4 linked regions of the Homo sapiens genome follow. The protein of the gene in region 2 purifies or fractionates together with the protein of the main gene of each other region. This does not show direct contact. Each region holds a gene or a part of one and is shown on either strand. Other genes may lie near its edges.

Region 1 (3,049 bases), on a different chromosome or scaffold from region 2:
CAGATATTGTGGATGAAGCCATCTATTACTTCAAGGCCAATGTCTTCTTCAAAAACTATGAAATTAAGGTAAATTACGGAGCTTTTAATATTTAACTTAGTTTTCTCATAGGGATAATACCAACCTTGCTATCCAGATTGCTGTGAGGAGAAAATAAAATGAAATCAGCATGTAATTTTTAAATTCGAGAGCAGTGCTTAATGTTAGCTTTTGTATAAATATTAGTTTCTTTTTTTTTCCTCCAAATTCTATACCAGGGGTTGGCAAACTCTAACCTGAGGGCCACATTTGGCCCACTGCCCCTTTTTATGAATAAACCTTTATTGGAACACAGCCACAACCATTTGTTTCTATATTATCTATAGTTACTTTCACACCAAAACAGCAGAATTGAGTAGTTGTGACAAAGACTGTATGGCCCACAAAACCTAAAAATACTGCCTGCCTTTTACAGAGAAAGTTTGCCAACCCCTTGCTAGAAGTATCTTTATTTATTCAACATTAGTTAAGCAGCACCTACTATGTGCCAGCCTTTTGTTTTGTTTTGAGACAGGGTCTTGCTCCGTCGCCCAGGCTAGAGTGCAGTGGCACAATCACAGCTCACTATACCGTCAACCTCCTGGGCTCAGACAGTCCTCCTGCCTCAGCCTCCCAGGTAGCTGGAACTACAGGCATGCACCACCACACCTGGCTAATTTTTTGTATTTTTAGTAGAGACGGGGTTTCACAATGTTAGGCAGGATGGTGTCTCGATCTCCTGACCTCATGATCCGCTCACCTCAGCCTCTCAGTGTGCTGGGATTACAGGCGTGAGCCACCGCTCCCGGCCCTAAAATGGAATTTCAGCCCCTCCTTGCCAAACTCTGAACTTCTGGAATCAAACAGGTTGTGAATTATTTATTTGTAGACTCTTGGTGTACAAATTGTAGTCTAAACATTCTGTGATGGTAATAGAATGTTTTCTATATCTCATGTGTGGGTTAAGTTTGTAACAGTTATAAATGTTACAATTCTCTGGGCACATTGCTTGAGTTCAGGAGTTCGAGACCAGCCTGGGCAACATGGCGAACCCCCGTCTCTACAAAAAATAGAAAAATTAGTGCATGGTGGCTCACGCCTGTAATCCCAACACTTGGGAGGCTGAGGCGGGTGGATCACATGATGCCAGGAGTTTGAGACCAGCCTGGCCAACAAAGCGAAACCCCATCTCTACCAAAAATACAAAAATTAGCCAGGTGTAGTAGTGCATGCCTGTAATCCCAGCTACTCGGGAGGCTGAAGCACAAGAATTGCTTGAACCCAGGAGGTGATGGTTGCAGTGAGCCGAGATCACACCACTGCACCCAGCCTGGGCGACAGAGCAAGACTGTCTCAAAAAAAAAACAAAAAACTCTGCCACATTTCATTTGTTCCCAGATACTATATTGTCTTAAAAATAGGGAAATGTGGCTGGGCGCAGTGCCTCTGCCCGTAATTTGGGAGGCCAAGGCGGGCGGATCACCTGAGGTCGGGAGCTTGAGACCAGCCTGACCAACATGGGGAAACCCCGTCTCTACTAAAAATACAAAATTAACTGGGCGTGGTGGTGCGTGCCTGTAATCCCAGCTACTTGGGAGGCTGAGGCAGGAGAATCACTTGAACCCAGGAGGCAGAGGTTGCGGTGAGCCAATATCACGCCATTGCACTCCAGCCTGGGCAGCAAAAGTGAAACACTCAAAAAAAAAAAAATATATAGGAAAATGGTGTGGTTTGGGGGTAATTTTTTTGTTGTTTTTTTGTTTTGAGACAGAGTCCCGCTCTGTCACCAGGCTGGAGTGCAATGGCGTGATCTCGGCTCAGTGCAACCCTCGACTCCCGGGTTCAAGTGGTTCTCCTGCCTCAGCCTCCCAAGTAGCTGGGATTACAGGCACGCGCCACCACGCCAAGCTAATTTTTGTATTTTTTGGTAGGGACAGGGTTTCACCACGTTGGCCAGGATGGTCTCGATCTCCTGAGCTCGTGATACACCCACCTTGGACTTCCAAAGTGTTGGGATTACAGGTGTGGGCCACCGCACCCGGCCTTTTTTTTTTTTTTTTTAATTCGAGACAGAGTCTTGCTCTGTTGCCCAGGCTGCAGTGCAGTGGTACAGTCTTGACTCATTACAACCTCTGCCTCCTGGCTTCAAGCGATTCTGTGGCCTTAGCCTCCCTAGCAGCTGGGATTACAGGCGCACGCCACCATGACTGGCTAATTTTTGTATTTTTAGTAGAGACGGTGTTTCGCCATGTTGCCCAGGCTGGTCTCAAACTCCTGGGCTCAAGCAATCCACCCACCTCAACCTCCCAAAGTGCTGGGATTACAGGCATAAGCCACTGCACCTGGCCTAAATTTGTGTAAAATTTGACCCAAAGTCCATACCACATTTGATCAACATTCATTTGTCTTCTCCACATTTTCTTTTTGGTTAGGTCAAGACATTGAGATTATGGAGTTCTTTGGGAGCAAGTCAAATGTGAAATAGTTGCTTCCTCCTTTAGAGTAATGACTATTTCTGTTCTCGGCAGAGACCCTGAAGGGAAGGGTTTTTAAAAATTAGCCAACCATATGGAGCAGTTCAGGCTTTCCAGGCAGCTTTGTTACTTCTTCCTATACAGTGAGGGGCTGTTGACACAGATCCTTGGGAACCCTGGGGCAAGGGGAGCCGAGAAAAACAAGAGAGAGCAGCCACTCAGCCGAGCGTGGTGGCTCATGCCTGTAATCCCAGCACTTTGGGAGGCTGAGGTGGACAGATCACTTGAGGTCAGGAGTTCGAGACCAACCTGGCCAACATGGTGAAACCCCGTCTCTACTAAAAATAGAAAAATTAGCCAGGCGTGGTGGCGGGCACCTGTAATCCCAGCTACTCGGGAGGCTGAGGCAGGAGAATTGCTTGAACCTGGGAGGTGGAGGTTGCAGTGAGCTGAGATTGTGCCACTGCACTCCAGCCTGGGCAACAGAGCAAGACTCCGTCTCAAAAAAAAAAAGCAGCTGCACATCTCAGAGTGGGGCTTGTGCCTTCCTCCCAGGG
Region 2 (3,542 bases):
GTACACAGAGGTGACCCTCTTAAAGGAGTAGGGGGCTTTAAATACGTTTAGTGCGATCACGGGACTGACAAGACGTTGAAGACGTTGTGACTCGAGGGATTCTGCGACCCCACGTGTGTAGCAGTCACCTTGGCCAGGCAGTTGGGGGCGCCAGGAGAGGGAGATGGCCCTGTGGCCACCGTCCTGGCAGGAGAGGCCTGGCTGGAGAGGCACATCTTGACAGAAACCAAATTCTCAGAATCTGAGATGGGGGAAAGCGGTTTAGGGAAGTCAAGGACGACTCTGAGGTGCCAGATTTGGTGCCTGGGCTGTTATCCCAGGGGTTCTGTTAATTGATCTTAGCCTTAGGGTAAGTAAAATGGGTCTTTTTATATAATAGTGTGAAAACTATTTTCATCTAATAGTACTCTTTTTAATAAAAGTCAGTAGTTGGAATGTGATTCATTTTTGCTGCTTCGAATACCTCTCATTGAACTGTGTCTAAAGATAAAAAAAATATTGCCAGACTATGATGCAACCTTATCTTCGGTGGTAAGGATACAGACTCCCATAGTGGGAAACTAGTGGTGAAGAAGTCTCTGCCTGTAATCCTCAGCACTTTGGGAGCCGAGGTGGGCGGATCACCTGAGGTCAGAAGTTTGAGACCAGCCTGACCAAAATGCTGAAACCCCGTGTCTACTAGAAATACAAAATTAGCCGGGCGTGCTGGCGCATGCCTGTAATCCCAGCTACTCGGGAGGCTGAGGCAGGAGAATCGCTTGAAACCGGTAGGTAGAGGTTGCACTGAGCTGAGATCGCGCCATTACGCTCCAGCCTGAGCGACAAGAGCAAAACTCCGTCTCAAAAAAAAAAAAAAAAAAGAAAAGAAAAGAAAAGTCTCAGGGGTCCTGGAAACATGCAAAGCCCACCTGCAATACAGTTCCATATCTGGGAAAAAATATTTGTGATTCAGGTCTGCCACGAGACAGCAGAAATTCATATCCCCAGAACATCCTGGTCAGAAGGAACTTGAACCCAGAAATGCCCATTTTACAAGTAAAGAAACAGCCCCCAAAGAAACTAGTAAATGGAATAATGTCCCAGCTCATGGTCATGGACTTTCATTCCAGCCAGGGAGACACAATTTAAAAATCCATATTATACGATGTCAGGGCTGACAGTGTTGAGAGGGAAAAAAACCATGCAGTGCCTGAGTGTGCCTTAGATAAAGTGATCAAAGGAGGTGTCCTGGCCGGGCGCAGTGGCTCACACCTGTAATCCCAGCACTTTGGGAGGCCCAGGGGGCAGATCACCTGAGGTCAGGAATTCGAGACCAGCCTGGCCAACATGGTGAAAACCCATCTCTACAAAAACACAACAATTAGCTAGGCATGATGGCGCACACCTGTAATCCCAGCTACTCGGGAAGCTGAGCGGGGAGAATCGCTTGAACCCAGGAGGCAGAGGTTGCAGTGAGCTGAGATCACACCATTGCACTCCAGCCTGGGCGATGGAGTGAGATACCATCTCAAAAAAAAAAAAAAAAAAGGTGTCCCTGAGGAGGTGACACTAGACAGAGACTGGAAGGAAATGAAGGAGGCAACTAAGCGAAGGCTCAGAGGTTGGGGTGGGCTCAGTATATTCGAGAAACAGCCAGGAACAGAAGAGAGATGAGGTGGGGGTTGGGAGGAGAGTAGGGCTCTGTAGGCCGAGGAAAGGACTCAGTCTTAATTCAAATGGGACAGCCCTGGAAATTCTGAGCAGAACAGTAATAGATCAGAAGTCTGAATTGTTTGAAAAGGGCCTTCTAAGCAGCTGTATTGAGAACACATCTGGGATCGAGAACCAAAGTAGAGAGGTGATTTAGATGGTGACAGCAACCATCCAGGGGACAGACAGTGGTAGCCCAACCAGGCAGGGGCCAATGAGGATGGTGGGAACAAGCTGGGTAAATTTTTTTTTAATTTTTTTGAGACGGAGTTTTGCTCTTATTGCCCAGGCTGGACTGCAATGGGGCTATCTCAGTTCACCGCAACCTCTGCCTCCCGGGTTCAAGCAATTCTGCCTCAGCCTCCCGAGTAGCTGGGATTACAGGCATGCGCCACCATGCCTGGCTAATTTTGTATTTTTAGTAGAAACGGGGTTTCTCCATGTTGGCTGGCCTAGTGTTGAACTCCTGACCTCAGGTGATCTGCCCACCTCGGCCTCCCAAAGTGCTGGGATTACAGGCATGAGCCACCGTGCCCCACCAATTTCTTATTTTGTTTTATTTTATTCATTTTTTTTGAGATGGAGCCTCACTCTGTTGCCCAGGCTGGAGTGCAGTGGCACAGTCTCAGCTCACTGCACCCTCCACCTCCAGGGTTCAGGTGATTCTCCTGCCTCAGCCTCTGGAGTAGCTGGGATTACCGGCACCTGCCACCACACCTGGCTAATTTTTGTATTTTTAGTAGAGACAGGGTTTCACCATGTGGGCCAGGCTGGTTTCAAACTCCTGACCTCAGGTGATCCACCTGCGTCGGCTTCCTAAAGTGCTGGGATTACAGACGTGAGCCACTGCGCCTGACCTGTTTTTTTGTTTTTTTAAGAGGGAGTCTCACTGTGTCGCCTAGGCTAGAGTGCAGTGGCCCAACCTCAGCTCACTGCAACCTCCGCCTCCAGGGTTCAAGTGATTCTCCTGCCTCAGCCTCCCAAGTAGCTGGGAGTACAGGTGCACACCACCACGCCTGGCTAATTTTTATATTTTTAGTAGAGACAGGTTTTCACCATGTTGGTCAGGCTGGTCTCGAACTCGTGACCTCATGATCTGCCCGCCTTGGCCTCCCAAAGTGCTGGGATTACAGGTGTGAGCCACCACGCCCAGTCCCAATTTTGTTTTTTTTGTTTTTTGTTTTTTTGAGATGGAGTTTTGCTCTTTCGCCCAGGCTTGAGTGAAGTGGCGCAATCTTGGCTCACTGCAACCTCTGCCCCCTGGGTTGAAGCAATTCTCCTGCCTCAGCCTCCCGAATAGCTGTGATTATAGGCACCCGCCACCATGCCCGGCTAATTTTTTTTGTATTTTTAGTAGAGACACGGTTTCACCATGTTGGCCAGGCTGGTCTCGAACTCCTGACCTCAGGTGATCCACCTGCCTTGGCCTCCCAAAGTGCTAGGATTACAGACGTGAGCCACCTCACCCGGCCTTAAGTTGGGTAAATTTTGAAGGTAGAGTACCTGGAATTTACTGGTTGACTAGATGTGGCGTGTAAGAGAGAGTCACAAATGACTTCAGGTTCGAAAAAGATGTGCAGAGTCATTAACTCTAAGCATTTAAAAATATAACAGCAAAGGCACTGTGCACCATTAGACTTTCCTTTTTTTTTTTTTTTTTTTTTAGACAGAGTTTCCCTCTTGTCACCCAGGCTGGAGTGCAATGGCCCGATCTCGGCTCACTGCAACCTCTGCCTCTGGGTTCAAGCGATTCTCTTGCTTCAGCCTCCAGAGTAGCTGGGATTACAGGCGTGCACCACGTGAGCCACCACGCCCGGCCTAGACTTTCATTTAAGACTAAGCTATGCCGGCCA
Region 3 (3,542 bases), on a different chromosome or scaffold from region 2:
CTCTACTAAAAATACAAAAAATTAGCTAGGCATGGTGGTACGCACCTGTAGTCCCAGCTACTTGGGAGGCTGAGGCAAGAGAATTCCCTGAGTCTAGGAGACGGAGGTTGCAGGGAGTCGAGATCGTGCCACTGTACTCCAGCCTAGGTGGCAGAGCGAGACTCTGTCTCAAACAAACAAACAAAAAAAAACTAGCTTCTGTTATTCCTACAGCTGCCATGCAGAGCCCGCCACCCCACCATCTCCCTCAGCAGACTGGTGTCTTAGGCACCAGAACCTAATGCTGTGTGCATCAGGCTGAACTTGGTGCCACCTGCAGTCACAGAGTCACTGGCTGGATGGATCACTGGGCTACCCAGACTGAAATCCCCATTCAGTTGTTAACAGGCTCTCAAGGCTTTGCAGACACCACTATCTAGGATTTAGACTGACCTGAAATAGCTGTGTGTCAATGATAAACTGTCCAATCAGAACACCTACATGGGACAGCTCTGGGGCAGACCCCCTCAGCTCCAGAGGTGGTAAATCATTCCGTGTCACTCTGCCTTTATCTCCTTCCACCATCCCTTCCTTTCCACACCCACAGCTGCACAGTGGCCAGGACCCTCATAAGCTCACAAGCTGATGCTTGTGGAGGCCTCTCTCCCATCTCTTTCACCTCCCAGGCCTCCTGCATGCACAGCCAGAGGGCTCTTCCTAAAATACCACCGCTCTGCCAGCCTCCTCGAATTTCTACCTGCCCTGTCAAAAATTTCACTGGCTCCACACTGTCCCAGATCTAATGCAAACTCCTTAGCTTAGCAACTCAGGCACTCCACAACTCACTCCTGAGACTGAGGCACCCCATGGGCTCGCATCTACTGCTTGTGTGACCACACCCCCTGACCTCTGCTTTTGTGCCAGTCCCCTTGACCATACCCCACCCTGTCCTCTCTGCCTGAGCACACTCTTCCCAGGCTTCATGCCCAGCCCCCAAGCCGACTGCAGGCTGGAGTGGTCTGCAGGGCTGCGTGGAGGAGGGGGAAATGCAAGCCAGGCCTGCAGGGATGGGCAGACCACAGCACCCATGGGTCCCTGGCTAAGTCTTTTCTAGTACTACTTCATTCCTGCTGCACTTGGCTTTTTGGACGCATCTTGCCTCCCCCTCCCAGATTAGAGGACAGGGATGATGGCTTCTATTTGTGTCCCTTATTCTGTGGTATGCAGAATAAGACATGCAACAACCACAGCTACTGTGTGCCAAGCACTGGAGTAAGTACATTACAAATTTCACCCCTACTCCCCATCTCTATAAAATGTTATCCTCATGCGACGGAACAGGAAAACTGAGACCAAGGGAATTAGCCGCCTCACTGACAGTCACATGCTGAGTGGCAGACAGGACTCAAATCCAGATGTGCCCAACTGCAGAGACCATGTTCTGTGGAGCAGGCAGCCGCCTCTCAGCTCTCACTCAGTGTTTATGTAGCTGGCGCTAAGTGCCAGGCGGCCAGTGCAAGGTGTGGGGTACTCAGAGGGAACCAAACAGACAAGGTCCCTGCTCTCACAGAGCTCATATGCTCTGTCCCCAGCCCTGTCTCTCTTCTTCCAAGCCTGGAAGAGGGCAGGAACCCTCCAGTCACAGGGGGTTCCACTGGCACAAACAAGGAATTCGGGCCTGACATATAGCATGAGGCTCTGGCAACACATGGTGCCCAGCTCACAGTGAGCTTGTCTTTAATGGAGAAAAGAGCCCCAGGCTCTATTAGGTAAGTTGTGCGTTCAAGGCACAACCCAGAGCCAGACAAACTCCAAAGCAGCCATCGGCAGGCAGTACGGAGTGGAGAAAAACGGTTTGCTCTGGAGTCAGAAAACCCAATTCCTCCACTTAGTAGCTAGACAGGGACTAACCATACACCCCTTTGCACACTTTTGGAAAATGGTGATAATAACAATAGTTAATGTTTACATCACTATGTGCCAGATGCTACTGGATGCACTTGACAGATATTACTTAACCCTCATTACGACCTTATGCAGAGGTACTGTTATCCTAAAGCAGTCTGGCTCCTAACTCTATTTTCTTGTACTATGCTGCCTCCAGCCTAAAGTTGAACCTACCTTGTCAGGCTGTGGTGAGGACCGTTCTAACAGAGTGCATAGCATGTGGCTGGTGCTCCATAACCATTAAACCTCCCTTTCCTTCCACTGAAACATGAATCTGTGAAAGCCTAGGTCTGGAAATAGCATATGGCTCTAGCTGGTCCCAATATGGGTGATCTTGCAGTTGCATCCCCTGGAATTCCACACCGCACCCTCACTGGTGGATCTGCTGCAAGGGGAAATGGGACAAGATCCTGTATTTACGGGGCCCTCTGCTCACTGTGTTCTGGAAAACACAGTGAGTGGGGTCCAGCACATGACTTGGGCTGACAGGGATCCGAATCCCAGGCCTGCTGTTCACACCGGTCACTCAAGCTCTCAAGCTTCAGGTTCCTTGTGAGTAAAATGGGGGCTGGGCTATAACCTAAGTCATGTTTCTGGGTCACAGCAGATCCTCGGGTACCCGGGTTGGACAGGCTGGACAAAGCTACCCAGGCTGGACTTCCAAGGTACTGTAAGGTTTCATTTCGGGGCCCCAGAAAGCCTTGGCTGTGCAGAGGAGCGGACTGCGTGCACGTGCAATCCAATTCCACCCAATGGCAGACACAAGAGAAGACACACCCCAAAAGGCCTGGGAGTGGAGCCTGGCACAAGCCCCCAGCTTTCTCTTCAGTTTCCTGCCATAGCTCATGCAGATGTGCCTGCAGGTACACTGAACAAGGCTCTTTCCCCCTTAAGCTTTAGGTAACGATGACATCCCCACCCCTCAACAATGTGAGCCATGAGGGCAGAGATCCTTGTCTTGCATCCTCAGCACATAAGCACCACAGAGTAGGCACTTAATACACAAAAAGCTGAATTAACATTATCCTGTAGCTGCAGGTACCCCACAACATGCCTCAGTATTTGCCTAACAATAAGCATTTCCCAGCCTGGAGGGAGGGCAGGCTTCTAACGGGCGAGGCACCTGCCCTGCCACCATTTCCCTGTGGTCAGTCATGTCCTGTTCCCCACCTCATGGAATGTAAAAGTATAGGATGTCTGAGTTATAAATAGGAGCATCTGCTTTCAAAGACACGGCTTATCATTTCCTTAATCTCAAGCCACTGATCACTGCCTACTTTTTATAAGCATGCCACCAAAAAGAGGCCAGGTGGGCTTAAATGAACAGGGCTGTATAGACAGACAAGAGGGATGTGAGTTGAACAATGTGTCTTATCCACATCAAGAGACATTAATGTCAACTATGTTGTTTCACCTTGTAACAATACCAAGTTCCCATCAGCTCCTGCCAGGCAAAACCATCTGTGAGCTGGAGCAGCAATTCCTGAGGGGGCCTCCCTAGTCCCCGTTCCTGCTAAAGCCTCACCATCATCATAACTAAGAATAATTCCCAAGTCAGAAACTGAAGCTGTGTAAGGAACGGTGCTCTGAAATTGTACAGCACTCAGACAGTGGTA
Region 4 (3,542 bases), on a different chromosome or scaffold from region 2:
TATCTTTCCAGCAGCAGAAAGACCAATGAATAATACATTTCTTTCTGTACAGATTAAAACTCCATACATACGGGCTTCACTATGTACAGAGAAAAGAGGTCACTTTTCAACTAGCAATGGACCTTTATATTACAGGAATGTGAGTCATTTTTTTTTCTTAATCTAAGTATATATACATTCATACATATATGTATATAATTTACCCTGTACCTTTTTATTAGTTTAATATATAAACCTTAGTTTTTTTGTCCATTCTATTACAAAGTGAATAAAAATTGTATGGTTGCACTGAAAGACCATGCATTTCAATTTTGCTTATGTTTCCCAATAGTGCTCAAAATAAAAAACCAAAAATTTATATATATAAAAATATTTCACTACCAAATCCATTAATCCTATCAAATGTAAACCTTTAATAATTTAAAGGACCAATACGTAATCTTAATAAATTGAAGTTAATTCTCATATTTTAATAAAATAAAGGAGTTTTGTACTGATATGTAAATGGTCTTGCAGCTTTCCCATAGGTTCTAGGTAGACTGAACAATCCCTTTCTTACAACAGTATTCCTGACATGCCATCATATGTCACCAGCATATTGATGATTACATTACATCGACTAGCAGTTAATTACTTCCACACCAGTTGGGATTTGTTTGAAATTAAACATAACAACTCATTTTGGTATTATAGGTATTATATCCACAAAAGGCATAACAGGCAGCAAGGATCCACTTTAGAGTTTCTGCTTTTGTTTTTGTTTTCTGTCCTCAAGTCTATCTGCAGGCCCTGTCCCACATAATGTGTGATCTCTGTATGTTCTTAAATGTATTGCCAGTGCCAGAGATACTGAAGACCTCCACTTTAAGTCATGCTCTTAACTTGGGTTATTTACCGCAGCCAGTTGTTAGGAATCTTTCAATTGTGTTCCAGTCATACTCCACATGTGTGGGATGCATTAGGCACAAATGATTACTAAGGGAGTTCTTTGAGAAGAAGCAGGTGCTCACAGATCATGTAAAGAGTTAAGAAAACAGACAGACAATGCTCATAGACGTTCAACTTTACCCCTGCTTTCTGTCACCATGTCTGTACTATTTTCAACACATTAAAAATGACAAACCTCCTATCTAAGGGCTACGTTAGTCACCACATGCCTTAAAGTTTACTAACCATTTAGTTACAATATACATAGAGCAAAATGTGTGTTCCCAAACAGACGTGATGCTGTATTGAATTTATTTCTTTAAATTAATACCATAGTAAATTACCAGCTACAGTGAAGACACAGACAACACTTAACTCCAAATCAAGCTGTGGTTTACAAATAATTATTTAAATAATAATAGCAATAATATTAAATAAAAGTGAAAACCTCACTTCTAGACTTAAGTCAGAGATCCAAGTCAGCCTTATAGGAATTATAAGATAGGCAATTAATGAATTGTTATGCTTTTCTAGAAACGAGAAATACTGTAAGCCTTTCTCTACAATGACTGATTTGAACCTATTTTTTTTTCCCCAGAAGCATGCAGGGACTATTTTCAGATGCTTGATTATGGCAAGAAGAAAGAAAAGTAACGATTTTTGGTGTAATACAAGCAATTTGTAGATTCGAGCATACAATTTTGCATAAAACATTGCAGGTTAAAATAATATTGTAGGTTTCAAGCCATTGCATTACAATTGAATAATTCTCACAATCAGGTTTTGTAAAATTTAAAACTCTAAGTTTTGAAGTGAAGCAATAAAACTAAATTCTTAAACAATGACTTTTACCTTCATACAACACAGAATAGCTATTTTTATTTGGGTTGAAAAAGTTATTTACAACTAACATTGATCGAGTCTTGGTAAAAGTCCGATAACACATGAAGACAAATATTAATTTTCCCTCAGCTTTCTGAAAGATCAATGAACATGTTTGAGGTTAGTGATATTCTTAACAAACAGTGGCAATGCTAGTCTCCTACGGTGGCCAAGCAAGTAGTGCATTCTTTAACCTAATTTGAAATTGAAAGCACCGAAATACAATTTAGATCTATAAAATGGGATTTGTTATTTAATTCTCCACCATTAATGATTAACAATTTAGATGCAGAGACACAGCTAATGAAAGAAAGTTTTGATTGGTGCTATTTACTAGTTCATTTGAGTTGCCTTTTTAAAATCAGTTTTGTTTCCATTGAATCCAAGAACTCTTCATAAAATAGAGAAATATACATATCAAAGGACTTAAGTAAAAGTAGGTTAGAAATAAATAATCTTACAACGACATTTTAAATCCTTTAATGATTTAAAGAAAGGAAGACATATAACACTGAATGCTAAACAGGTCTTTTGACCCTCTCTTGGGAATTTAGATATATATTTTATAGTATATGTATATATATTTTTACATTTCACGTGTAGGCCACAGCTGTCTAAAATATCTCTTCATAGTAGGCTAGAGGGATCTATCAGGAGATAGAATAAAATAAGATCTGAGTATAGTCTCAGTTTATGAGAGTATTTCTTTCTGCTTTGACAATCAGCAGGGATCATAAATTTGAAGCAAATCGTGGCTTTTCTGCGTCTGGGTCTGTGTTTAAGACTGAGGAAGATTCTCTTGGAAGAGCAGCTGCTGGTGGAGGGGGTGCTGGAGGGACTCCTCGGTTCGGGGGGATGGCTCCCGACGACATCTGTCGGAAGAGGGTGACGCGCTGCGGGACAGTGCTCCTGCCCCCTGCCTGAAGGCCCGTTCCGGGGACCGCCGTCACGGGTTGAGGGATGGAGGCCAGGGACTCGCCCACAGTGGGATGAGGTCTGGAAATCAGAGTGGACACCTCATGGGGCAGCGAGGGCTGCGAGGCGGAGAGTGGCCTGACTTCCCGGGTCAGGTTGGTGTTGTGAAGCGCCTGCGTGCTCTTGTGCACTTCATTTTTCGGCGTGGAGCTGCCAGGTGTCTGTGGCTGCGGGGACGGCTGCTGTGGCTGAGTCTGCGGCGGCTGGGACTGCTGTACCTGCTGCTGCGGCTGCTGTTGCATGAGTGACAGCTGGGAGGCGGTGGGGGAGGCATAGTGGAAAGTTCGAGCGGCCAGAGGGCTCTGTACAGGAGGGCTGCAGACCGCGGTGGTGTAGGAGCAGGGTGACAGGATGGCTGATGGCTGGGGGGTCTGTGTGCTGGGACTGGGGGAGTGCAGGTTGCTGTGAGACAGGCTGGTCGCTGTGTACACCGGTGGAGATTGTGTCCTCATGCGGGAGGTCGGGGTCGTAGTAGACGATGTGGAATTCAGGGTTGTCATTTGAGGATAATTGATGGGAGCGATTGCCTGCACCATCTCCCTGTCATGTTTCACAATCTGCTTGAGGATTTCGTTCTCCTGATTGTTGAAAACACCAGTGTTCAGATCCTTCTGGAACTTTTGCAGAAGAATTGAATTTTTCTTTCCTGTCAGCAAAAGAAAGATAGGCACTTAGAAAGCCTACCAATGACTGATGACAACGCCAAGTGAGAGTGGCTCCTGCAAACAGAAGTATAGCTGTGCTTCACAGGAGAGGCT

What was found.
Region 1: the proteins of ARPC5L (region 2) and ARPC3 purify together in Homo sapiens (affinity purification with mass spectrometry; 9 studies listed by BioGRID and IntAct, with this or other methods). This does not show direct contact.
Region 3: the proteins of ARPC5L (region 2) and CAPZB purify together in Homo sapiens (co-immunoprecipitation; 3 studies listed by BioGRID and IntAct, with this or other methods). This does not show direct contact.
Region 4: the proteins of ARPC5L (region 2) and HCN1 purify together in Homo sapiens (co-immunoprecipitation; one large-scale study listed by IntAct). This does not show direct contact.

The regions. Positions count from the first base shown.
Region 1 is NC_000012.12:110,437,331-110,440,379, reverse strand, and holds part of ARPC3 (actin-related protein 2/3 complex subunit 3), read left to right. Parts: coding exon 1-68; intron 69-3,049. UniProt on the Homo sapiens protein: Component of the Arp2/3 complex, a multiprotein complex that mediates actin polymerization upon stimulation by nucleation-promoting factor (NPF).
Region 2 is NC_000009.12:124,865,127-124,868,668, reverse strand, and holds part of ARPC5L (actin-related protein 2/3 complex subunit 5-like protein), read right to left. Parts: intron 242-3,542; 5' UTR 1-241. UniProt on the Homo sapiens protein: May function as component of the Arp2/3 complex which is involved in regulation of actin polymerization and together with an activating nucleation-promoting factor (NPF) mediates the formation of branched actin networks.
Region 3 is NC_000001.11:19,479,040-19,482,581, forward strand, and holds part of CAPZB (F-actin-capping protein subunit beta), read right to left. Parts: intron 1-3,542. UniProt on the Homo sapiens protein: F-actin-capping proteins bind in a Ca(2+)-independent manner to the fast growing ends of actin filaments (barbed end) thereby blocking the exchange of subunits at these ends.
Region 4 is NC_000005.10:45,259,381-45,262,922, forward strand, and holds part of HCN1 (potassium/sodium hyperpolarization-activated cyclic nucleotide-gated channel 1), read right to left. Parts: intron 3,431-3,542; coding exon 2,541-3,430; 3' UTR 1-2,540. UniProt on the Homo sapiens protein: Hyperpolarization-activated ion channel that are permeable to sodium and potassium ions. Displays lower selectivity for K(+) over Na(+) ions.